7 linked regions of the Homo sapiens genome follow. The protein of the gene in region 5 interacts with the protein of the main gene of each other region in a pairwise test. Each region holds a gene or a part of one and is shown on either strand. Other genes may lie near its edges.

Region 1 (3,500 bases), on a different chromosome or scaffold from region 5:
AAGCAAGTTGTATGTGACGGTCAAGTTCCCAGTTCCCAGAGGGAATGGCAATGGATAATAAGGTTGACCTGAGCCATAGTGGACTTGCTCTCCTCAAGATGCTGTGTCGTAAAAATGAGCTATATTAAGATAAATCATGCTGACTTTTATTTTCCTCAAGAATACACTGCTGGCTGCTTGGATTTTTTTTTTTTTTTTTTTTTTAAACTTCAAATTTGTGTTGCTGTGAACAGCTGGGCAAGTTTTTACCCTGTCATGGAAACTATCTGGCCATTTTTGCACTGTTCTGTATGCTGGGAAGGGAGGTGAGCAGAGCTTGCCAGAAAAGAGTTCTAAGCTCAGTTTCTATGCTCTCCTGTAACTTCAGGGACTTGTGAATGTCCAGTTTGTTCCTATTTGTTGCTTTTGTATAGCATGTCGTAATCTGGCTACAACCTTCCTGGCTACCTATTTCACAGGGCTGTTGTAGGAAATTCAGAAAAAGTTTCGTGGTCCTGTTAAAAAGAGCATTCAGCAAAGAATTGAAAAGGTAAAGTTAAGTATCACCAGCATTACATTTCCTGCCTGAATTAATCTTTTCAAAGAACTCTGAGATCTGAGGCTGGCAAATTCACTAAAAAGGCAAAGAATTACTTTAGGTTATTTTTACTAAATCAGGCATCCTAAAAATACTCTTTTTTGATGCCTTGATCAAGAGAGAAGAAATTTCAGAGAGAAGAGGCATACAAATGCATCTACAGTTCTACAAGTAGCCCAATTTCAGTATCAATTTATCCACTCACTATAATAAATATTAAATATATACAATATACAAAGTATTAAGCTAGATACTATAAGGATGAAGAATTATGTAAAAGATGTTCCTATATCCTCCTGTACTACAAGTACACTGTAAGATGTAACTTTTGTTTAGATTTCCTTCCCAAATAAGCAAAGGTTTCTAGTTTCCCTGGGACAAAGAAGGTGAAAGAACAAAATAATTTTTTTTAATCTATTATGACTTTCTGGATTCATAGAAACATTTATTTTAGAACATTCAGGGAGACTTATCTGTTAGTTTCTACTGATGAGTACCAAGAGTGACTGAACTACAGAATGGCTGTGACTTCCAAAGATAACCTGATTAAATCTGACATGCACATGACATGGGGGGAGCAAGGAATCCATGTGTCCTTCAATTTCAATAAGAAGAGTTAAAATGTACTATCGAAGGAAGAAGATCACAACCGTGTGGTTTAGAAAGCAGACCAAAAACAACAGGACAGAAATATTCCAAATAACTTGGAATCCAAGTCACTTGGGTTTCCTTGAATGCCCTGCCATATTAAATCACATATGGCTCTGCAATGAAAGGAGAAGTTAAGGCCTGTCTCATGCCCCACTTCTGCCACTGACTGAGCTTGAGAAAGCAAATTCAATCTTTTAAAGTTATTCAGGGAAAGGCAGAAATGGTAGTCTGGACATATAATGAAATAAGCTTATTAATGTGGGGTAGAAGACGTCTTGAGCAATTAGCCAGTGTCCTTATCCAATTAAGTTGGAAAAGAAAGCCCCAAATTTCCTTAAAGTTTTACTGGTATTAGTTTGCTAGACTGACAGTTCCAATATATACATTCTTTGTATGTGTTTACTTTTCCCCCTAGAGTTATGGCTAAACTGAATAGAACCAAATTCCCAAGATCTGCTTCTTTCTCTTTTAATATCCTATTTTTCCAAAGCCACCGAGCTGATGTCCTTCAACAAATGGATTAAAGTAAATGCTGAGAACCAGCTCTCGTGTCCGAGCAGGGGGGAATGAAGGGTTTATACCCAAGGCAACTAGGGGCATACTCATGATGGTCAATATAACATTAAGGAAATCTGTAGTACATCAAATGATATTCTGAAGTTATGGTTCTATTCAAGCTGAACCATCTTTTGGGAAGCCAATCACAAACAAGATTGCTGTATTTGGAATTCTGACACCAAGAACGCCTAGGCAACCTCTTCACAGAAATGGAAAATAAGACTCAGCCAGCTCCATGTCCCATGGTGTAACCTCACATGCAGCACATGAACAGTTCTTAGTTATTATTACTTTTGAATGAAAAGTAGATCGACTTACATGGCTCTCTGGCAATGAACTGAGGTACAGTGTTGGGCAGAGGAGTACTGGGGTTTGGAGTCCCTACGAGTTTGTTCTTGGCCATCTTCGTGTTTGCCTTAGCAAACTCTAGTCGTAGTGTTTGCGGAATTTCAGGATCGAAGCGGATGCCCTTTGGAAACAGAGAACAAATGGAAGATGTTTTCATTTCCTTTGAGTCAAACCGGAATGGTGACAAAATAAACACACCAGTAAACCCTGGTCTATCAGGAAAAAAGGTCAGCAACCACTCTCATTCTTACTACTTACACAGGTTACATGAAAAATGACAACACAAAGTGTCCCGAAAGTCAGTGGGATTTAGTTTAGTTAAAAAATGTAGTTACACAGATTTTCAACTATTCCTTTTCTTTTTAGACAAAAACTTTTCAGTTTAAAATTTGAACCAGCAAATTCCTAGCACAGTTACACACTTTAATATATAGTAATTTCAGTTACCTCTGACCCTATTCCTGCAGTTTACCTAAAATAGATTATATTCAGTAAAACAAATCACAGACACTATGAAAGACACTAGCGCAAGACAAGTCTATTTGGAACCTTTCCACCATTCAAGAATGTCTTCATTATTAAGCATCCAATACCATGAATTCTGGACCCTACGTGTCAAAAAGATATCCCAAGAGAGTGTATTTTAAATGTGCACCCATGGGACCCACTCAGTTCCCATGTTTTCATGGTGTGGTCTGGAAAGGGACTGGAGTCCTGAAAACGAGTCTCCTAAGAACACAGTTGCCATTTAGTGTTCTGAATGTACACACATGGGCCTGAGGGCTCCAAAGCATCCCCCGCCCCCTCGCCACCATTCTTCCTAATGAGCTTGAAAAAAAATAAGAGCAGGCAGGGCGTTGTGGCTCATGCCTGTCATCCTAGCACTTTGGGAGGCCGAGGCGAGTGGATTGCCTGAGCTCGGGAGTTCAACACCAGCCTGGGCAACATGGTGAAACCCCATCTCTACTAAAATACAAAAAAAAAAAAATTAGCTGGGCGTGGCGGCATGCACCTGTAATCCCAGTTAGTTACTTGGAATGCTGAGACAGAATTGCTTGAGCCCATGAGGCAGAGGGTACAGTGAGCCAAGATCGCGCCATTGCACTCCAGCCTGGGTGACAGAGCTAGACTCTGTCTCAAAAAAAGAAATATCCACAAAAACAAGACTCTCTTACTCTAGAGACCAGGATGAACAACTCTGAACTTCACAGGCTCAGCTTCAAGTATACAAGGAAGAGCCTGTGGCTGGATGGTAATGGCATTAACAGGAAACAAGGGGGGAAGGGGAAGGAAAGAGAGGTCCTTAGGGAGGCCTAACAAAAGCCACAGAGCCCTGACCCAGAAGTCTTGGAGTGGGTGGAACTTC
Region 2 (3,500 bases), on a different chromosome or scaffold from region 5:
GTTAATATTTAAAGTCTAAAAAATGAAACAAAATGAAAGTGATAAAAAAGATATATTTACTTATCCACTCTTTCATATTTAGAACTTCAGTGCTCTAGGGAAGAAGTACTAGGCAACTGCTATAATATTACCTCTCCGCTGGTCATCCTCACAATAGTAAAGAAATACTAGAGATCTTCATACATAAGTCAGGGTAAGAAACAAGGGAGACAAAAAAGAGGAATAAAAAAACAGATAATAGGGATAGAAAGGTGAAGACAGATATAGCAGGCAGTCAATTATTTCTTTATATTTTGCCCTGGCAAGGATAATACATATTCTATTTAAAAGCCCCATAATAAGTTTAAGCATATAAAATGGAGGCTAGAGCATCAGCATGGTATGTTAGAAACAGTACAGGCTTTTGGGTCAAAATACCTAAGTTTAAATATAGACTCCAACACTTCCTAACTTTCTGAACTTACTGTTTTATTTAAGTCAATCTTTCCCACTCAATCTTCCCCAGTAGATTAAGCTCTATAATGACAGGAACCCTGTCTCCTTGTTCACTCTTGTAAGCCTAGCACCTAGCATGATGCTTGGTAAATAGTAATGACTTCAGTAAGTAACTGTAGAACAAATGACAAACAATTTCAAGGAAGTTTTTCCGCCTCTGAGTCTATTTTTTAATATGTAAATGAATACAATAAAATTTATATTTCATAAAAACTCTGCCAAGTTTTTATGTATTTAAAGTATCCAGGAGAAAATCTTCTGTCACTAAATGTTCAATTTAGCATTCTCTAGGTGGTCTGCAATATCAATAAATAGCCATTAATGTTTTTAAAACATCAACACCTCTTCTTTTGTACCTCATATTCATATGAATTATAACATTGCATGTACTAACGCCTGCTTCAAAGGCTTTTCCTCTTTAGTGCCTATGATAGGTTGTTGGGAGGATTAAATGAGATAATGCAGGAAAATTACTTGGCAATGTGATTAACACGTGGTTAGAACTCAATAAATGTAAGTTTTTCTTTTTATCTTGTTTAAATGGTACTTGGTGTCTAGTGACCAACAATACTTAAGACTAAAATGCAGTTTGATGTAAACCAAACTGATTGTTATGGCTGCAGAGAGATCAGCTACAGGACTAACCTGGAAGAGTTTACCTAAAATGATACTTCCCAGTTCTAATGGTTACTACGGCTTCTCTTCTATTCAATCCAAAGCTGCCTTATAATTTCAAATGAGAGGCCAGAACTTAGAAGGGAAAACACAGCATTGCCACCAATTCCCCTCCCTTCTCTTTTTGAAACAGAGAACATTAGTATTTGGTTCTAATCCTTCAGAGTCTAGATATTAGAATTATTACAAGCAAGGAAGAAGACATTTTCTCCCTTTGCTCTACTAGCTTTAAAATATTTTTTAAGATTAAAATGCTTCAAAGGTGTATATTAAAGACCTAATTTAACTACACAGTTGATATTAATCAGATTTTGCTGGTATGTCATGCATCATAAAATTTGATATAGTATTTTCTCATCAGCTCATCATTTTAAATCTTAAGAATATTTAGGTATACTTTTCATGCCTTAAAATGGTCATTCTGTCTGAAAAAATATCAAGTGAAATTTCAATAGGTATTTGGAGTTGTTCTCTTTAGAACAGATTGCTGCAAATATTTACTTTCACATAAACCAGAGTCAAATTGGTCAGCTCTGAACACCAGAATCTATAATCAACTACCTAGAAAAAGGGAATCCTCTGGGTATGTCTGTTAATTTAGGAAGCAATTTCAGTTAGCAAACAGGGTAGGATTCAGAGGAAAATAATTTAAATAAATTACTTACTTTTGCAAATAATTCTTGTTGCTGTCTCAATAACTCTTCTTCAGGAATGCCAAGGTTTTCCAAACGAGAACTGGCCTTTCTTCTTTTTAATGCTACTGTTTTACACTCTTGCAAGACTTCTTTTACTTCACTGATGTAAGAGCCAAATCCCAAACTTTCTAGTGCTAGAGAAATGAAAATATTAAAATATGAAAGGGTGATAAAACACAGCTTTCCCCCAACCCGTAGACCTAAAGTTTTTGTGGGCTTTTCTTTGGGGGAGGGGAATGTTTTGCTGTTTTCTAATAATTTTACCTATTTTATAGTTGTACAACAACTGTCTGGGCAGCCAAGACAAATATTTTATCAATCTGCTAAATATTAGGTGGCAAATCAGTTAAAACTTGAAGAACCAAGGCACATGCCTTCACTTTTCATTCTGACTAATTTTTAAAAGACCAAAGCATTTCCTGTAAGCAGGGAAGAAAAAAAAGCCCATTATAAGAACATATGGTTTTAGTAAGAAAAAACATTTTGTGTCATTTGACTTAGAAAAAGTAGGCTGGTAACACATTCTCTACTAAGTTCTGGTAGGACAGAATAAAAGAACAGAAGTTTTTCTTTTGTCCAATATACCAACAGGAAGCTATTTTTAGCAGATACTCAAACTGCCAAGTTTAAAAAATACTGGTGGAAATAAAAGTCATGAAATTCAGCACTTATAGTCAGCCAACAGGTTTCTCTTGAAAATAAAACTTAACAGGAAAAATAAAAACATATTTAAATGATGTGGCAAAAAAAACGTAGCTGAAAGACTATAAAGATACAAGAAGCACTAATAAAAATGTTTCTCCCCTTTTCGTATTTAGAAAGGAAATTTTATAAGGAAAAAAAAATGGGCTAGGCATGGTAGTTCATGCCTGTAATTCCAGTACTTTGGGAGGCCAAGGTGGGAGGATCCCTTTAGTCCAGGAGTTCAAGACCACCGCGGGCAACATGGCAAGACCTCGTCTCTACAAAAAGTAAAAAAATTAGTCGAGTGTGATGGGTCGTGCCTATGGTTCTAGCTACTCAGGAGGCTGAGGTGAGAGGATTGCTTAAGTCCAGGAGATTGAGGATGTCACGAGCCATGACTGCGTTACTGTACTCCAGCCTGGATGACAGAGCAAGACCCTGTTTCAAAAAAAAAAAAAAAAAAAAATTCACACACCCTAAATACCTTCTGTAATCCAGAAAAGACAAGGCATAAAATTTCCTTTTGGGTCATAGTATTTAAAATTATATTTTATAGTTTTGGTATATTGACTAATGCCCCAAAGGCATATTTTGTATTGTGAACCAATGATGAAACATAGGTGGCAAAAAACAGTAAATCAATTTAAGTCATCAGTTCTTGAAGTCTTTCAATCATTATGTTGAACCAGACTCCTTTTAGTATACATGCTCTCACTTCTAACTTCAGGGATTTGCTCTTCTGGGAGAATGCCAAAAACACCTTTACAAATCTACATGCCCATGCAAACTGTGGTTTTTAGACATTTTGAATGATTTACAACTTTAAGTATTTCAAATGTTAAGCTGTTTTCATCAACCTTCTTTAGAAATAATCTGATGCCAAAAAGCATAGTACTGTCCTATTATTAAGTTAACTCACTTCCCCTGACCTCCCTAAAAACTTCAGAAAGG
Region 3 (3,500 bases), on a different chromosome or scaffold from region 5:
ATTGCTGAAAGTTCGCCATTCAGATCCCACATCAATAACCCGGTCACCTAAGAATATAAGCACATATCTGAATCATTTTGTCAAGATAGGGTTTACTTAACTACACTGTCCAATGCCCAACTAAGCCATTTTATTCCCAGGAAATCTCAACATGGACATCTAGGACCAAGCTTAAATATCACATTTCAGACATTTGTCCTAAAGCATTCCTTTAACTATTGTGCCAATCTAACAATAATCCTCTTGAAACATTATGCTATGATATTCTAACTCTTGGAAGAAAAAGTATTAGTCAAAAGTAGCAAAGTACAGCTATTCATATGTGATGCAAAGGTAAACCAATGTAATAATGATTAAGAACCAGATTTTGCACAAAATTTGCAATAGGCATGGGAAAAAAAGAGAAAACATTTTTTAGAATGGTATTAATGCAAATAATTTCATATTAAAATGTCACTAAGTTTGCGTGGGAAATGCTTCGCAGAAAATAAGCCTAAGCTTCTGTTTCAAAGTAACAATCTGATGAAAAACATACCTGGCCAAATAATTTATACAGAATAAACCTCAAGCCTAGAATCCGTGAGAAGAAAGCCTGGTAGGCAAACTTTTCTCTTTAAGCAAAGAGGCAGCATCTAAATATATCATGTCCAATAAAAGCAGACACAAGTAAACCTTATTATTACTGTTTTGGTGAGAAAGCTCAATGTCTGGCAATACCTTCAGAGTAGACAAAAGTTAACACTGAATACTTAACACATACTACTCACTGTGCCCTTTTGTAAATGTTCTCACTTAATCTTCACAGCCTTATAAAGGTAGGTACCAATTTTATTGCCACTTTACAAATAAGATTAACTAGCCTAAGATCACATAGCTAGAACTGAAACGCACATCAGAGTTTGTTCTACACTCCAATTGTAAAACATGACCTTTTTCAGTGAAGTGTGATGAAGCTGAAAGTAGGAAGGAACCAGACCATTTCATCTTTGTGTATACACAGCAAACAGAAAGAAACAAACGGCAGAAACCAGTTACTGTAGCAATTAGAAGTTACGGTACTAGCAGTCAATTAATATAATAGTCAGGGGTGTGAACTCTGCCCTTTGCTGCTTAGCCTTGGAATATTACTTCATTTCTATGTCTTTATTACCTCAGCTCTAAAATTCTCTTTAACCTCATATTTTAAAGATTATAAAGACTAAGCTATTATAATACCCATGTACAGTGCATGTAAAGTGCTTAAAAAGTAGTACTAAGTGCTCAATATTCACTATTTACTGCTATGAAAATTAGAAAGATAGCAAATATTCTGAGTTTCTCCTTTTTTGTGGGGATGATAAGGGAGACGCATCAGTTTAAAACATTAATCTCCAGCCGGGTGTGGTGGCTCAGGCCTGTAATCCCAGCACTTTGGGAGGCCGAGGCAGGCGGATCACCTGAGGTCAGGAGTTTGAGACCAGCCTGACCAAGATGGAGAAACCCCGTCTCTACTAAAAATACAAAATTAGTTGGTCATGGTGGCACATGCCTGTAATCCCAGCACTTTGCGAGGTCCAGGCGGGCTGTCACCTGGTTGGGAATTTGAGATCAGCCTGACCAACATGGAGAAACCCTGTCTCTACTAAAAATACAAAATAGCTGGGCGTGGTGGCACATGCCTGTAATCCCAGCTACTCAGGAGGCTAAGGCAGGAGAACTGCTTGAACCTGGGAGGTGGAGGCTGTGGTGAACTGAGATCGCAACAAGAGGGTAACAAGAGTGAAACTCCATCTCAAAAAAAAAACAAAACAAAACAAACAAACAAACAAAAATTAATCTCCATAGAAGACTTTAAAAGCTTCCAAGTGCTCCGCTAAGTATTTGATCAGGAGGACAGCAAAGAACAGAGAAAACGGAAGGAATTCCACCTAGACTATGCTAACTTTTTAATTTTTTATATAAAAATTAATTTAAATGCTCATAAACAACCAGAGTATAGTGATCATATAATCTTAGTGATAGATTTAAAAAAAGGCTGGGCATGGTGGTTCACACCTGTAATCTTAGCACTTTGGGAGGCTTAAGCAGGAAAATCACATGAGCCCAGGAGTTCAAGACCAGCCTGGGCAACATGGTGAAACCCTGTCTCTACAAAAAAATACAAAAACAAATTAGCTGGGCGTGGTGGCATGTGCCTGTAGGGAGGCTGAGGTGGGAGGATCACCTGAGCCCAGGAGGTTGAGGCTGCAGGGAGCCATGATTACACCACTGCACTCCAGCCTAGGTGAGGGAGACCCTGTCTAAAGTAAGCAAATGCTCAAGAGAATGATTCATTTCTGAAGCCTCTGACAAAATTTTTCTTTTTTCTTTTCCTTTTTTTCAGACAGGGTCTCACTCTGTTGCCCAGGTTTGAGTACAGTGGTGCAATTTTGGCTCACTGCAGCTTTTGCCTCTGGGGCTCAAGCAATACTTCCACCTTAGCCTCCTGAGCAGCTACAGATATGCACCACCACTGCCTGCCTGGCTAATTTTTGTATTTCTTGTAGAGATGGGGTTTTGCCATGTTGCCCAGGCTAGTCGTGAACCCCTAGGCTCAAGTGATCCACTCACCTCGGCCTCCCCAAGTGCTGGGATTACAGGGGTGGGCCACCATGCACAACAGAAAAACTTTTCTTTAAACAACTGAATCACCAAGGTAAAAGCGGATTATCAGTTGGACTACCATGTGTCCACATTACAAAGGGATTGAGATTAGAGGCAGAGTTCCCATGTGCCATCCCTGTATGCAAGGAGAACACGCAAGGAAGGCAGAAGCAGGACAGTAAGTTAGAAGGCAATTTTAATACATCACACATTGAGCAGGTGGCCCGAAACAAGGAGAAAAGCGTTAGATGGATGGCATTACAAGGATTTATCTGTTTCCTCTTCCTCATAATAAACATCACTAAACTTAGGAAGCAGTTTGAATTATGCAGATTTTAAAAAGATACTTAAAAGTATCATAAATTGTCATTGTGCACTGAAACCTTACCAAACCACTGTGCAGTGAGTACTATTCACCAACAAGCCCATGTCTCAAAGAGATCACACTAAAGAGATCAATTTTTCTTCCTTTTTACAAAATATTTGCTCACTAAAAGATACGTTAGAAAAAAATTACCTGCATTCCCAATACCCAATGACCACTATATTTTCATATATGCTCTGTGTTTTTCGTTCATATGTATGCACCTACGTTTTCCTAAAATTTAGATACTGTGCCTGTTTCATGACAAGCTCTTTTCATTAAATTTATCATAAACACCAGCATGGTATTTTTAGACAGAATTTAGTCCCTTTAATAGCATCCACCAATTAAAGTGATACCATGGTGTTCCCATGCACTTATGTCCAAAGACAGAAAAGACAATCTAACTTTCCTATTTGGCAAAATAAAAACACAAACATGCATAGAACAAAAATAACCGTGGCCTTCAAACCCAGAGTTACTAAATTTTAAGCTAAAAAAAATCAACAAATGT
Region 4 (3,500 bases), on a different chromosome or scaffold from region 5:
ATGGTGAAACCCTGTCTCTACTAAAATACAAAAAATTAGCCAGGTATGGCAGCATGCACCTGTAGAATTGCTAGAACCCAGGAGATGGAGGTTGCAGCGAGCCAAGATCGCACCACTGCACTCCAGCCTGGGCAACAGAGCGAGACTCTTGTCTCTAAAAAAAAAAAAACGTGGGTTGATTACTGGGGGAACTCAGTTATCTTCCTATGTCTCTGATTGTGCCCTTTGAGGTTACATTTTCTCTGGGCATCAACCACACCTAATTAAATAGGACACCAAAAGCTGCTACTTTACTTAATATACATCAAAGAGACAGTAGCAGCTTTAACACATAGATGCCACTTCCTGCTTTCACATGCATTCCTATCTTGAAAGTTGAACAGGATTTTAACAGAGCCCCAATATCTGGAGTAATGCTGCTCTTGTAGAATAGTTGTTACATTTACATCCAGAAACATAGGGCGTTATGGCACAGGGCGTGTCCTGAGCATTCAGATGATGCAGAGCCACGGCTGTTGTGTACATGTGTGTTGGAACCACTGAGAAAGATGTGTTGCTTTTGTTCCCTGTAGTAGATTTTCCAACACCAAAGACTGAGCTGGTCCAGAAGTTCCACGTGCAGTACTTGGGCATGTTACCTGTAGACAAACCAGTCGGTATGTGAAATGTTTATTGTCTTTCCACTTTGCAAGTGTGCGGGAGCTCACAGGAGGCGTTCGCCCTCCGAGGAGGGTGAGGTCTGCTGTTTACTCTCACGCCTTGTCTTGAATCAAACTGTCACACTGTCACCTGCCAGAGAACATAAACGGTCCTGATCAAAAGATGAGTAGAGGGACAGGCCCCGCTGCTTTGACCTGTCATCCCCAGCATGCAGGACTTTAGCAATACAGACGTGGATTTCTTGTTTACCCAGTAGTCCAGAGCTGTGTGACTCAGGGCCGTGGAAGAGCTCCGCTGCTCTGAAACGAGGCCTCCATCTCTGAGGCCAGGGCACCTGCTTCGTGTCTTGTCAGCTGGCGGGCCAGGAGAAAGGACTGTGGAGGCTTCATGCTGTCAAGGAGTGACACAGTAGTGGCACACACAGCATTCAGCTCACATGCCAGGGGCAGAGTGTAGTTGCTGGGCTATACCAAGCCAAAAAGAGACTGGGAGATGAAGCCTTCACCAGGGCTAAAAAAGGCTGTGGAGAAATCGCAAGCTACATATACTGCCAAGGGGGCTGTAAGATGGTGCAGCTGCTTTGGAAAACAGTCTGGCATTCTTCAGAAGGTGAAACATAGTTACTTTAGACCCAGCAACTCAGTTCCTAGGCGTAGACCCAAGAGAAGTGAAAACGTTTGTGCATGCAAAAACGTGTATGCAAATGTTCACAGCAGAATTATTGATGAGAGTCAAAAAGCGAAACAACCTGAATGTCCTGACAAATCAACTGACAATTAGATAAATAAGATGTGATACTTCCATACAGTGGAATTTTATTTGGCAATAAAAAGGAATGAAGGACTGAAGTGCGCTGTAGCGTGGATGAAGCCTGAAAACATGCTATGAGGGAAGTCAGTCCCAAAAGACTGCATACTGTGTGATTACGTTCATATGAAACGCCCAAAATAGGCAGAGCTCTAGCGTCAGAAAGTAGGTAAGGGTTGCCTTGGTCTAGGGGTCTGGGGAGTGGGGGAAAAATGCAGAATGACCCCTACCAGGCACGGGGTTTCTCTTTGGGGTGATGAAACTGTTCTAAAATTGATTATGGTAGGTCTAGCATGGTGGCTCACACCTGTAATCTCAGCACTTTGGGAAGCCAAGGCAGGTGGATTGCTTGAGCCCAGAAGTTCAAGACCAGCCCAGGCAACATGGCAAAACCTCATCTCTACAAAAAAAATTCAAAAAATTAGCTGGGCATGGTGGCATGTACCTGTAGTCCCAGCTACTCCAGAGGCCGAGGTGGGAGGATCATCTGAGCCTGGGAGGCTGAGGCTACAGTGAGCCGTGATTGTACCACTGCACTCCAGCCTGGGTGACAGAGCAACACCCTGTCTCAAAAAAAAATTGATGATGGTGATGGGTGCGCTCTGTGAATGTACTAAAATCCACTGGATTGCACACTTTACGTGAGTGAATTGCATGTGAATGATACCTCAATAAAGCTGTCACTCCCACCCCTATCCCCCAGAAAAACTGTGGAAACAGCTGGCAAAAGGGCCCTACTCAATGGGGGGATCCACTGTAAAGGTGCCATCAAGAGACAGTGAGGGTGGAGAGAGGCTGAAGGGCCATGGTCTGCATAGGTAGACAGCGTCTAAGGCACCAGGTCCCCGGAGCTTCTCCTGACTCTCCTCTCCTACTGAAAAGGCTGTTATTTCTTTTTTTTCTTTTTCTTTTTTTGTTTTTTGAGACAGAGTCTCACTGATACTTGCCCAGGCTGGAGTGCAGTGGTGCGATCTCAGCTCACTGCAGCCTCCGCCTCCTGGGTTCAAGCAAGCATGTCCAGCTAATTTTTGTATTTTTAGTAGAGACAGGGTTTCACCGTGTTGGCCAGGCTGGTCTCGAACTCCTGACCTCAAATGATCCTGGCTCAGCCTCCCAAAGTGCTGAGATTACAGGCGTGAGCCACTACGCCCGGCCAGAAGCTGGTATTTCATTCCTGTTGAGCAAACATGAGAATGAAGTGTCCTGTCTATTAAAAAAAGATCAGTCTGGGCGTAGCTGTTATTGGTGATTTGGGCCCACATTTGAGTGTGGTAAGTGGCTTTAGGACACTTTAAATTATCCTTTTCTGTCCCCAGGAATGGATATTTTGAACAGTGCCATAGAAAATCTTATGACCTCATCCAACAAGGAGGACTGGCTGTCAGTGAACATGAACGTGGCTGATGCCACTGTGACTGTCATCAGTGAAAAGGTGAGAAGGAATCTTCGATGACATTGGTGTGTCTTATACAGTGAGTATAAGATACAGTGGTTTTCTGTGGAACTTAGGAACATAGTCAAGGCCGGAGTTGTGCATCCTTGTGATTAAGATGGCCTACATTTGAAAGATTTGGCCCTTTGTCTGGGTCTAAATCTGTGCATACCTCTGTTTTCCTGTGGCCTGAGAAACTTCTCTTCTGGTGCTTCTGATTCTGTCTTCCTCATGTGCCCCAGAGAGAAATTGTTTGCTAGAGGTGAGTGTGTGACGCTAGTAGTCGCTCACTCTCAGGGCGCCAGTATTGCCTGGGCTGTGTGATCTGGGGATGAAAAGCAGAAGATGCTTCCATTTGGGAGAGTCCTGTGACTATCAGTAGCAGAAGGAGCTATTGGTTGTCTTGAGAAGAGGCCACATTAGCCTCAGCCCAAATTATCTCAGTTTCGTGGTTGAAGAAATTGAAGCACAGAGAGGCTAAGTCATTTGCCCAGCATCACACAGTTGGAAGCAATGGAATCAGGACTTAAATCCAGGCAACCTGGCCCAGACTTGTGCCCACTTTTCTATTCTGCCTCTGTGAAGCACCTGCCAGGGAAAG
Region 5 (3,500 bases):
ATTTTTTGCCCTTTAGCTTGTCAAAATAATGTCTAAAAAACCAGATTGATCACAAAAGATGCATCATAATGCCACATAAAGATGTCACTCGGCGCCTTATAGTATTTAGGACCATAGAGGACACCTGGTGCAGCCTCCTCATTTTGCAGCTGAGCAAGATCTTTGAAGGACAAGGACCTGCCCAAGGCCATCTAGAAACACTGAAGTTGAGACTCATACCCGAGCATCTTAGCTTTTGCCCACCCCACGCTGTTTCTCAGTCTTAACCAGCAAGCTTTCCTTGTTATTTTGGTTTGTCTTACGTCTAGGTTTGATTTGGCAGCACATTTCAACATCTGGTGAAGGCATGGGAATAAAACAGTGTAGGTGGATGGAGCACCTAAGAGCAGAATGTTTGGTGTTCTCTCAGGGTACACTGGGCAAGGCCTGCTGGGCCGTCCTTCCTCGCCATGCTGCCTGCGTTTATTCAGTTAAGAAAGTGGCACATTTTGTATCTTTGAGAATGCAACTATTTTAGTTAGGAGAGTGATGTTCCGTCTATGGAAGACTTTGCCTCTCTCCATCTTGGGCTTGGAGAAGGTGTCCCATGTCCCAGCAGCATGGCTGTGTACAGTCATTGATTCTTTTGTTTACTTCTCCATGCCGTACATTTTGTTCCTGTCCCTTGATCACAAAGAAATAAATGAACGTTCCTGAGGCACTGACATGGGCCGGGTGAGGTGGGAGCCTCCTTCTAGATATTATTATCCTATTTAAATGCATTATGTTCCCACTCATTTCACGATTGCCCAGTATTCAGAGAAGTTGCATTACACAACTGAAGCTCCATAATAAATGCGTGGAGGTGAGATTCAAACCCACGTCTTTCCCATTCTACTTTTTGTGCCTTTCTGTTTTAATTTGCTTCTTGGTATTCCTGTGTATTATTAATAGTCTGAAGCTTGGAAATAGATGCAATAGTCATTAGAGTGAAGAAAATACAGTGCCGTGCTCTCTGAAGGATAACAAGGACATTTTTGTTGTAATTACTATTTTGATTTTTCTTTTAAGAATGTTGCCGAGGAAGGAAAACAGAGGGAAAAACCAGCAAAGCTCACTGTGTCTAACTTTTGCCACATGCATGGACCTAATTTCTTACTTGCCAAGCACTAGAGCCTTTATTTTTGAGACTCTGTGAGGGTGGCTGAGTTCTGTGTGTTTGCTGGGGTTGGAAAAATCTAGTGTGATGGGGGTCAGTGGCCCCATGACACGCCAAGGCAGAGTAAGCCACAGAGCTCAGTCTGCCATAGGTGTGGCTTCCTTCCTTCCTCACATCTGTGTCAACACCCGGCAGGAGGTGCCTGATTCCAGTGGGGATGAAGCAGCCTCTGCCCATCCCTCCATCACCCATCAAGAGCTCTGGACACACATGAGGTTGAACCCCCAGATGGTGGCTGCCAGGGGAGTGTGTCCACCTCTCACTTAGGCCAGGTGCGTGGCATCTCACTGCGGCAGGCATCCCATGGGCGAGGTCGGTGCTCTCCTGATGTCTTTGATATTTTTCTTTATCTGGCCTAGTCTGAGACCAGTACTTTCCCCTGCCTGTGACCCCTGACTTCATTTGCAAAGTTTTCTCATGCACTTTCTGAAATTTTCATGACAGAGAGCCCTGGAGGAATTTGGGGCAACGATGGAGGTGGAAGAAGGTTTAAAGCTGGGAATCTTTATGCATTTTCTCTGTTTTCTCCTTCTCTTTATTTTTTTTCTTGACCTATACTTCACACTGGTCTCTGTCTTCTCCATGCTTAGAAAGCAGAGGAGGCTTGAGCTTCCAGCAAAGACCTTGCGACATGTTACTGGATACAGGCTGGTGCATAGAAGGGGTGGGTGGGGAGGGCTGACAGGAGGGTGTCCCTCCCCTGAGCATCACCGGCTCTGTTCTTGGCCAGTTGCTCTTTGTCCCCACATTTCAGGTTCTCTTCCTGCATTCAAGCATGGGCAGGGCCAGGGCTGCTGTTTCAGGACTGCATCTAGCCCTGAAGTTTTCTCTGGGCCTCCACAGGGGACCTTCCTACTCTGAACTCCACATGCATTCTCCAGGCCACACTGCACACTCACCCTACTCTCCAGTCATTTCCAACTACTTAGAATTCAGTCAGTGTTGAGAGTCACCAGTCTTATGTAGACTGGAGCCTGGCACATAGTAGGTGCTTTTTGCATGTTTACTGAGTGAATGAATGAACAGAAAATGAAATGCACTTTGCCTAAAAGCTGATCTGATCTGATCTGAGTGCCCAGGCATTTCACCCTTCTTCCAAAGCTCTCCTTTTGTTCCTGTGGCCCAGGGAATGCTCAGTTCCAGGCTTGGCAGAGGAGGGGTCTCTCTAGGCAGTGTGAAACAGACTGTGAAGCCCCCATGAGAAATAGTCCACCCACTGGGAAGGCCCCTCCGCTCCCAGGAAACTCCAGCCAGAGCACTCCAGCGTGGGGGCTAGGACTCCTCTTTTCCAAAGGAGAGTAGACAGTGGGAGGAATTCACCTCAGAATGATTTCCTGGAGCAGTTAGGAAAGTAGCATCTCTGAAGTCACAGAGGCTTCAGCTCCACTGGGCCGTGAGAATCCCTTACAGAATTCTGACCCCGACCAAGCAGAAAAGGGCACTGCCGCCTTTAAAACAGTTGACTGCAGAACAAAACAAAATGCTAAAATAAGACTAGAGTAGTTTGAAAATATTGGAAAGTTGAGAAAAAACTCCCCCAAATTCCATGATACTAGCATCATCATAGTATATAGCACATTACATATATAGTGTATTATATGGTATATTATGTATACATACTATGTATACTATATGTTATATGGTGTATGTACATAGTAAAAATTATTTTTCACATATCTATTGCTTTGGTATGTTTTCTTTCATGTTTTTGTTTATTTGGTAGATAGGCTTTTTTCCTGTTTTGTTTTACAACATGTTTATATCTGACACTAACATTGTATTATAAGCTTTTTTTTCCCATACTATTGCGTAGTCTTTATAGCCACACTTAAAAAATGAATCATTTATTTCTAAAAACAGTCAGGTCCATTTTATTTTGGCTTCTGGATCCTGCCCCTCCCCGGGCACTCTCCCACTGCAGAACTATGTTAGGCTCAGTTCCCCAGAGAGCCCTCAGGTTTTCCACACCACAGGCCCCATGCAAGCTTCTTGTGAACCCTGGGCAGTCCCTTCTGGGTCCTCAGAGCTCAGTTTAGATGCCACCATTGCCTGTTTGCAACACTGGCACATGTGCAGGTCCCTGTGTTCTGTACAGCTGAACTCAGGACTGCCTCATCACCACTGTCACTACCGCGCCTCGCACAGGGCCCGCATGCTGCATGCTCTCAGTGAATGCTTGCGGAATGAACGGAAGAGGGAATCAATGAACAAATGACCTGGTGGTCATTTTCTGTGTTTCCTCCTGGGGTTTTTCCTTTGGTGTATGCATTTTGTGTGTGTGTGTGCATAGAATAGGTTACAC
Region 6 (3,500 bases), on a different chromosome or scaffold from region 5:
GCTAATTTTTCTATTTTTAGTAGAGACCAGGTTTCACCATGTTACTCAGGCTGGTCTTGAACTCTGGGGCTTAAGCAGTCCACCCACCTTGACCTCCCAAAGTGCTGAGAGCCACTGAGCCTAGCCCAAATCCACGTTCTGATTCAAAGGGAAAGAAGAAGGGTGCAGCTAAACCTGGGGGGTGAGAAGTACTTAAAAAGCCCAAGAGAAACAAAAGAGAGAATAATTCCTCACTAGGACCCCCTATTGCCTTCCCACTATTGGTGCCCTTGCTTGGCACTTCCCCTGGCCTCCAGGAGTCTGAGACTTACTCTTCCATGGATGTGCCCATTGCCCCCACTTCCAGGTCCACCCCCCAGTGATTCGGTAGCTTAGTGTCTGCGCTGAAGCCCAGGACAGCTGGATGGACAACTGGTAGATCCCTTCACCTACCAACTGTGCTTTCTGCTCCCCTCCCCCTTGCTTCCCTCCTCCCCAGCCCCTCGCCACCCCTAGCAGCTGCAGCAGCCAAGACCAAGTCTTCAGAGACCCAGACACAAGGGCAGGGTTCATTCCATTCTCACCTCCTTGGGGTCCCAGTGTACTGATAGGCCGAACTCTAATATTATAGGAGATCTCTGGAAGATTGCAGGGTCTCTTATCCCTCAATAAGGGGCAAGGCAAGCCGGGCGCAGTGGCTCACGCCTGTAATCCCAGCACTTTGAGAAGCCGAGGGGAACAGATCACTTCAGGTCAGGAGTTAAGAGACCAGCCTGGCCAACATGGTGAAACCCTGTCTCTACTAAAAATACAAAAATTAACCAGAAATCGCTTGAACCCAGGAGGCAGATGTTGCAGTGAGCCGAGATCACGCCACTGCACTCCAGCCAGGGCGACAGAGCAAGATTCCGTCTCAAAAAAATAATACTAATAATAAATAAATAAATAAGGGGCAAGGTAGTCCACCAACAAAATGACAGGCAGTGTGATATAGTGGACACCCTAGCCCTCGGTGCCCTTAGTTCTGTGTGTGGCCCTTTCACTAAATTGCTGTGTGACCTTGAGCAAATCGCCTCCCCTTTCTGGCTTTCCTTAGCTGTAAAAGAAAGGGATTGGAGCGGAAAGTCTCCAGAGACCTTTTAGGTTCCAAAGTAGTACAGTGACCCACAAAGTGAGAAAACAGTCTTCTAAAATACCAAGTTATTAATAGTAAAATCAAATATAAATAATGTGAATATAGTTAATAGCTAATGTTGTTCTCAATAGAAATGTTTCCCACAAGCTGTGGAATTAAACATACTACCACATTTCTCTATTTCCCCGTGAAAGTTTGTTAGAAATGGTTAAATTGTGACATTACCCTCTTGGCAAATGTTTTGTTTTCATTGCTACTAGGAAAGGGCAACTCGTTTTCGATGCCTCTCCCTTCTGGACGGTGGAAAGGGCTGTGTCATAGAGTAGGAACGGGAGATGCGGCACAGGAATGGCTCCCATTGACCCGGGTTGGGGGCTAGGGCGAAGGCCTAGGAGAGGCAGAACTGTTACCTTAGAGCTGGCCAGGATTAGAGAACAGTGCCTGGAACCGGGGGGAGGGGCACGGTGACCTTGGGCTGCCCACCTTCTACCCTTCCAGCACCCATACTGGCTCCCCCAACCTGCGGCTGGGCTGGGAGGAGGTCTTGGCCCCTACCAATCCCTTAAGGAAGGGGAAAGAGTTTGGGAAGGGGAGTCCTCCCTTCACCCCTGCCTCCCCCAAGTTGTGAGAGAGGAAGCCGGAATCCTGCCTGCTGAAGCCAGGAATAATTCTGGCTGAGATCCCAGGCCCGGCAGGGGCGCTGAGTCATGGTAGAGGGCAGAGTGGAGAGTGGACAGGAGACCCTAAGCTTGTCCAGTCAGAAAAGCAGAGGCTGAGGGGTGGCCTTTTCTTGAGAACTACATTCAAGTTGCAGCAAGAAGGACAGTGGTCTGAATTTGACGGGGACAAATGGAAGGGAGATAGGACACATGAGTTCCTTTAGGTCTGGCTCAGGGGAGCTAGACTTCATTTCAAGGGGTCTAGGTTCTGGGCAGTTGAGAAGGAGGCTATTTGGGGTCACCAAGGCTCCCCTTTCTTCCCAAAGCTCTAACACTGCCACCTTCTGCTGGCTAGGAGAGAGCTGTGTCTTCTGAGGCTAGAGCTGGAATGCAGTGAGACCAGACTGCCTAGGTCCTCCCTCACTTCTTCTCCTGACCTTGGGGTGTGGCTCCCACTCTCTCCCAGTGTCCTCAGGGTTAATAACTATGTGCCACCAGATAGAGAGTTAAGGGGCTGCTGAATTGGCTTCTTGTGAAGGGAATCCCCTAAATGTCCCTCGTTTTGGTCACTGGCCTCCCTCCCGCCCCCTTCAGGACATTCTACTATCTTCTTAGGCCATCCCTCCCTCCTCCAGGCACTACTTCTTTTGCTCTATCCCCAAGCCCCACCCCTGCATTTTTGTGACAACACCGGAATGATTTCTAGAGAGAGAGGCCAGGAAGAAGGAAAGTGGCACTTGGCAGGAGACCTTGCAGGGGGCGGCTGGTGAGGAAGCCAGCCGCCCATTGTCCAGGACCCCAGTGCCCTGGCCTCCGGCCTCAGGCTTCTCCTGCCTCTGTACAATGCCACGTTGATACGCCCAGCAGCTGTGACTCAGGCCTGGCCCCCTGCCAGGCCCAGCACTTCTACTGGAGTTGCGTCTGAACATGTCAACAGGCTTCCTATCCCTCTCTCAGCACCAGTTCTCCCCACTTCAGCCCCTCCCTCTGCCTGGAATTAAAACCTGGCTTTGTCTTAGGGAAGGACAGCTGGGAGCCTAGTGGCTCTGGTAGGGGATCTGAGAGGCCTCAGACCCTAGGCATATTTGGCTGTTTGGCAGGTGTCACGCCCAAGGGAAGCGTGTGGAAGCAGAGCCATGCCTGCTGTGGGTGCACATGCCCGCGTGAGGGAGTCGGGGTGTTTCATCCTGGGGCACCTGTGGGCTTTTGAGGTGTATGATATTCAGAACTTCACAGGTTGGGGTTTGGGGAAGGCTCAAGGGGCTTCTAAGTCCCTGGAACAGCTGCCCCCCTCAGTTCCTCTCTCTCTCTCTCTTTTTTTTTGAGATGGAGTCTCGCTCTGTTGCCCAGGCTAGAATGCAGTGGCGCGATCTTGGCTCACTGCAAACTCCGCCTCCTGGGTTCAAGTGATTCTCCTGCCTCAGCCTCCCAAGTAGCTGGGACTATAGGTGCCCGCCACCATGCCTGGCTAATTTTTGTATTTTTAGTAGAAATGGGGTTTCACCATGCTGGCCAGGATGGTCTCAAACTCCTGACCTCGTGATCCACCCACCTTGGCCTCCCAAAGTGCTGGGATTACAGGCGTGAGCCACTGCGCCCAGCCTCAGTTCCTCTCTTTAAGGTCTCCTTTCCAGAGAGGGATAGCACCTCAAATGCCAGGGAGGGGAATTCTCCACATCCTGCCCTTACCCGAGTTGTGGCAGACCCACAGACTAGCCAAGAAACCA
Region 7 (3,500 bases), on a different chromosome or scaffold from region 5:
GCCTCAGGAGTAGCTGGGTACTATAGGCATGCATCACTGCCCTGTTTATTTTTTATTTTATTTTGTAAAGGTATTTGAAGAACATTTCTTCCTTTTACTTAAAGAAGCTGTTGAAAACATTTAGTACATATCTATCTATCTATCTATCTATCTATCTATCTATCTATCTATCATCTATCTATCTATCTATCTATCTATTGAAACAGGGTCTCACTCTGTTGCCCAGGCTGGAGTACAGTGGAACAATCACAGTTCACTGCAGCCTCAATCTCCCAGGCTCAAGCAATCCTCCTCCCTCAGCCTCTGGAGTTATTGGGACTACAGGCACATGCCACCACACCTACCTAATTTTTTTTTTTTTTTTTGAGACGGAGTTTCGCTTTTGTTGCCCAGGCTGGAGTGCAATGGCTCGCGATCTCGGCTCACCGTAACCTCCACCTCCCGGGTTCAAGTGATTCTCCTACTTCAGCCTCCCGAGTAGCTGGGATTACAGGCATGTGCCACCACACCCAACTAATTTTGTATTTTTAGTAGAGACGGAGTTTCTCCATGTTGGTCAGGCTGGTCTCGAACTCTTGACCTCAGGTGATCCGCCTGCCTCAGCCTCCCAAAGTGCTGGGATTACAAGCATGAACCACCGCGCCCATCCACTAAATTTATCTTTAATAGAGATGAGATCCTGCTTCACTGCCCAGGCTGATACCGAACTATTGGGCGCAAGCAATCCTCTCACCTAGGCCTCCCAAAGTGCTGGGATTACAGGTGTGAGCCACTGTCCCCAGCCCTAGTAAGTCTTTATTTTTTATTTTTTTGAGGTGAGTTTCACTCTTGTTGCCCAGGCTGGAGTGCAATGGCACGATCTCAGCTTACAACAACCTCTGCCTCCTGAGTTCAAGTGATTCTCCTGCCTCAGCCTCCCGAGTAGCTGGGATTACAGGCATGCACCACCACACTCAGCTGATTTTTTTGTATTTTTAGTAGAGATGGGGTTCTCCATGTTGGTCAGGCTAGTCTCAAACTCCCGACCTCAGGTGATCCGCCTGCCTCGGCCTCCCGAAGTGCTGGGATTACAGGCGTGAGCCATAAGGCCTGGCCTATTTTTTACTTTTAAGATGGAGTTTTGCTCTTGTTGCCCAAGCTGGAGTGCAATGGCATGATCTCGGCTCACTGCAACCTCCGCCTCCCAGGTTCAAGTGATTCTCTTGCCTCAGTCTCCCAAGTAGCTGGGATTACAGGCATGCACCACCATGCCCGGCTAAATTTGTATTTTTAGTAGAGATGGGGTTTCTCCATGTTGGTTAGGCTGGTCTCAAACTCCCAACCTCAGTGATGCACCAGCCTCGGCCTCCCAAAGTGCTGGGATTACAGGCATGAGCCACCGCGCCCGGCCGTACGTATCTTTATATCAGGATGTTTATAACAATTTTCTCTTAGAACATCTTTAGAATTTAATACTAGGAAAAAAGGTTTCTCTCGACAAACTATTAGGCTTTCTTTTACCAGAGTGAAAATTGTACAATTTATCTTTCCCTTTTTGCATTAAATTCCATGTTTCCAAATTAAATTACAATAACCACATTAGCCGAGGCAACCTATACATTTAGTTTTTCTTGTTACATAAATTTTTACTTATTTATATTTTAATAGCTTCACTGTATATATTTGTGGTAAGCTGCTCAAATCCTTTCTAGAAGTAGTAACTGGTATAAATTATAAATAAATAAAAACTTCCTGTAATAGCCTATTCTGCTATTTAACACTGTAAATATGTTGTGTAGTCAAAGTTCTAGTTCCTAAAAACAAATAAAACCAAACGACACAGCAAGCTTTTAAAAGTTACATAAAGATCGGCTGGGCATCGTGGCTCACGCGTATAATCCCAACACTTTGGGAGGCCAAGGCGGGTGGATCACTTGAGGTCAGGAGTTCAAGACCAGCCTGGCCAACATGATGAAACGCTGTCTCTACTAAAAATACAAAAATTAGCTGGGTGTGATGGCACATGACTGTAATCCCAGCTACTCGGGAGGCTGAGGCAGGAGAATCACTTGAACCCGGGAGATGAAGGTTGCAGTGAGCCAAGGTCACACCACTGCACTCTAGCCTGGATGACAGAGCGAGACTCTGTCTCAAAAAAAAAAAAAGTTGCACAAAGATTTATGTTGAATGAATTTAATAGCCATGTGAGTAGCCAGAAAAACAGCAGTTTCAGAAGACTGAAACCAGCCCACAAACAGAAGTAGCCAAAAGTTCAAGGAAGAAAAAAACAAAATGAGTAACATACTTAGTACTGCAAAAGTGTGAAGTGTGCCTCCTGGTTTCAGCAATAAAGGCTGGAAACCACAGCAAGGGCAGTATCCATGAAGTGGGGGGCAGGAGGGGACACTGAAGCCAGCCTGTAGTGGGTTGGCACGGAAGTGGGAAATGCCAGTATCCATGACACTGTCAGAGCCTGGCTATGATGAGCAGGAGAGAGCAAATAGGAATGAAGGATTTTATTGGAAGGAACAGAAACGAAGGAGGGATTTTCCTCCCCCCAGCCCTTTATTTGTAATAGGAAAGACTTGCACATTTCTATACTTTATTCAATAGCTATTTACTGGGTGCCTACAATGCAACAGGCAGTTCCTGGGAAAAATAATCCGTGAACAAAAAAGATAAACAAACCTCCTTGTCATGGAGGAATTTACATTCTAGTAGGGAGAGGGAGGACATTAAAATTAATAAATCAGGTATAGAGAATCGAGAATGTAATCAGCATCACGGGGGAGTACAGCAAAGTCAGGGGGTTCAAGATTGTGGTGGTGGGAAGGATTGCTGTGCAGGTGCATAAATGAGGTCAGGGTGGGCCTGCTGATGTGCTGAGATTTAAGCAAAGACTTGAAAGAGGTAAAGGAGTTAGCCAAGCAGATTTCAGGGGAAAAGTATTCCAGGCAGAAGAAAGAGTAAGAGCAGCTGGGTGCGGTGGCTCACGCCTGTAACCTCAGCACTCTGGGAGGCTGAGGCAGGTGGATCACCTGAGGCCAGAAGTTCAAGACCAGCCTGGCCAACATGGTGAAACACCGTCTCTACTAAAAATACAAAATTAGCTGGGCTTGGTGGTGGGTGCCTATAATCCCAGCTGCTCAGGTGGCCGAGGCAGGAGAATTGCTTGAACCCAGGAGATTGTGCCTCTGCACCCCAGCCTGGGAGACACAGCAAGGCTGTCTCAAAAAAAAAAAAAAAAGAAAAAGAAAGAGTAAGAGCAAGTGCCCTATGGTAGGACTATGCCTGGTGTGTTCAAGAACAGTAGAAAAGGCTGGGCACAATGGGTCACGCCCGTAATCCCAACATTTTGGAAGGCAGAGGCGGGCGGATCACCTGAGGTCAGGAGTTTGAGACCAGCCTGGCCAACACGGTGAAACCCCATCTCTACTAAAAATACAAAAATTAGCTGGGCGTGGTGGCACACGTTTGTAATCCCAGCTACTTGGGAGGCTGAGGCAGGAGAATCACTTGAA

The links.
Region 1: the proteins of ZNF488 (region 5) and RBPMS interact in binary tests that used the Homo sapiens proteins (3 or more experiments, as listed by UniProt).
Region 2: the proteins of ZNF488 (region 5) and DR1 interact in binary tests that used the Homo sapiens proteins (3 or more experiments, as listed by UniProt).
Region 3: the proteins of ZNF488 (region 5) and GTF2B interact in binary tests that used the Homo sapiens proteins (3 or more experiments, as listed by UniProt).
Region 4: the proteins of ZNF488 (region 5) and APBB2 interact in binary tests that used the Homo sapiens proteins (3 or more experiments, as listed by UniProt).
Region 6: the proteins of ZNF488 (region 5) and LMNA interact in binary tests that used the Homo sapiens proteins (3 or more experiments, as listed by UniProt).
Region 7: the proteins of ZNF488 (region 5) and KIF1B interact in binary tests that used the Homo sapiens proteins (3 or more experiments, as listed by UniProt).

Annotation. Positions count from the first base shown.
Region 1 is NC_000008.11:30,503,041-30,506,540, reverse strand, and holds part of RBPMS (RNA-binding protein with multiple splicing), read right to left. Parts: intron 2,362-3,500; exon of another isoform or gene 2,256-2,361; coding exon 2,105-2,255; intron 1-2,104.
Region 2 is NC_000001.11:93,352,407-93,355,906, reverse strand, and holds part of DR1 (protein Dr1), read right to left. Parts: intron 2,000-3,500; coding exon 1,836-1,999; intron 1-1,835. UniProt on the Homo sapiens protein: The association of the DR1/DRAP1 heterodimer with TBP results in a functional repression of both activated and basal transcription of class II genes.
Region 3 is NC_000001.11:88,864,068-88,867,567, forward strand, and holds part of GTF2B (transcription initiation factor IIB), read right to left. Parts: intron 48-3,500; coding exon 1-47. UniProt on the Homo sapiens protein: General transcription factor that plays a role in transcription initiation by RNA polymerase II (Pol II). Involved in the pre-initiation complex (PIC) formation and Pol II recruitment at promoter DNA.
Region 4 is NC_000004.12:40,823,043-40,826,542, reverse strand, and holds part of APBB2 (amyloid beta precursor protein binding family B member 2), read left to right. Parts: intron 1-572; coding exon 573-656; intron 657-2,783; coding exon 2,784-2,899; intron 2,900-3,500. UniProt on the Homo sapiens protein: Plays a role in the maintenance of lens transparency, and may also play a role in muscle cell strength. Involved in hippocampal neurite branching and neuromuscular junction formation, as a result plays a role in spatial memory functioning.
Region 5 is NC_000010.11:47,370,794-47,374,293, reverse strand, and holds part of ZNF488 (zinc finger protein 488), read left to right. Parts: intron 1-3,500. UniProt on the Homo sapiens protein: Transcriptional repressor. Plays a role in oligodendrocyte differentiation, together with OLIG2. Mediates Notch signaling-activated formation of oligodendrocyte precursors.
Region 6 is NC_000001.11:156,121,211-156,124,710, forward strand, and holds part of LMNA (lamin), read left to right. Parts: intron 1-3,500.
Region 7 is NC_000001.11:10,217,070-10,220,569, reverse strand, and holds part of KIF1B (kinesin-like protein KIF1B), read right to left. Parts: intron 1-3,500. UniProt on the Homo sapiens protein: Has a plus-end-directed microtubule motor activity and functions as a motor for transport of vesicles and organelles along microtubules.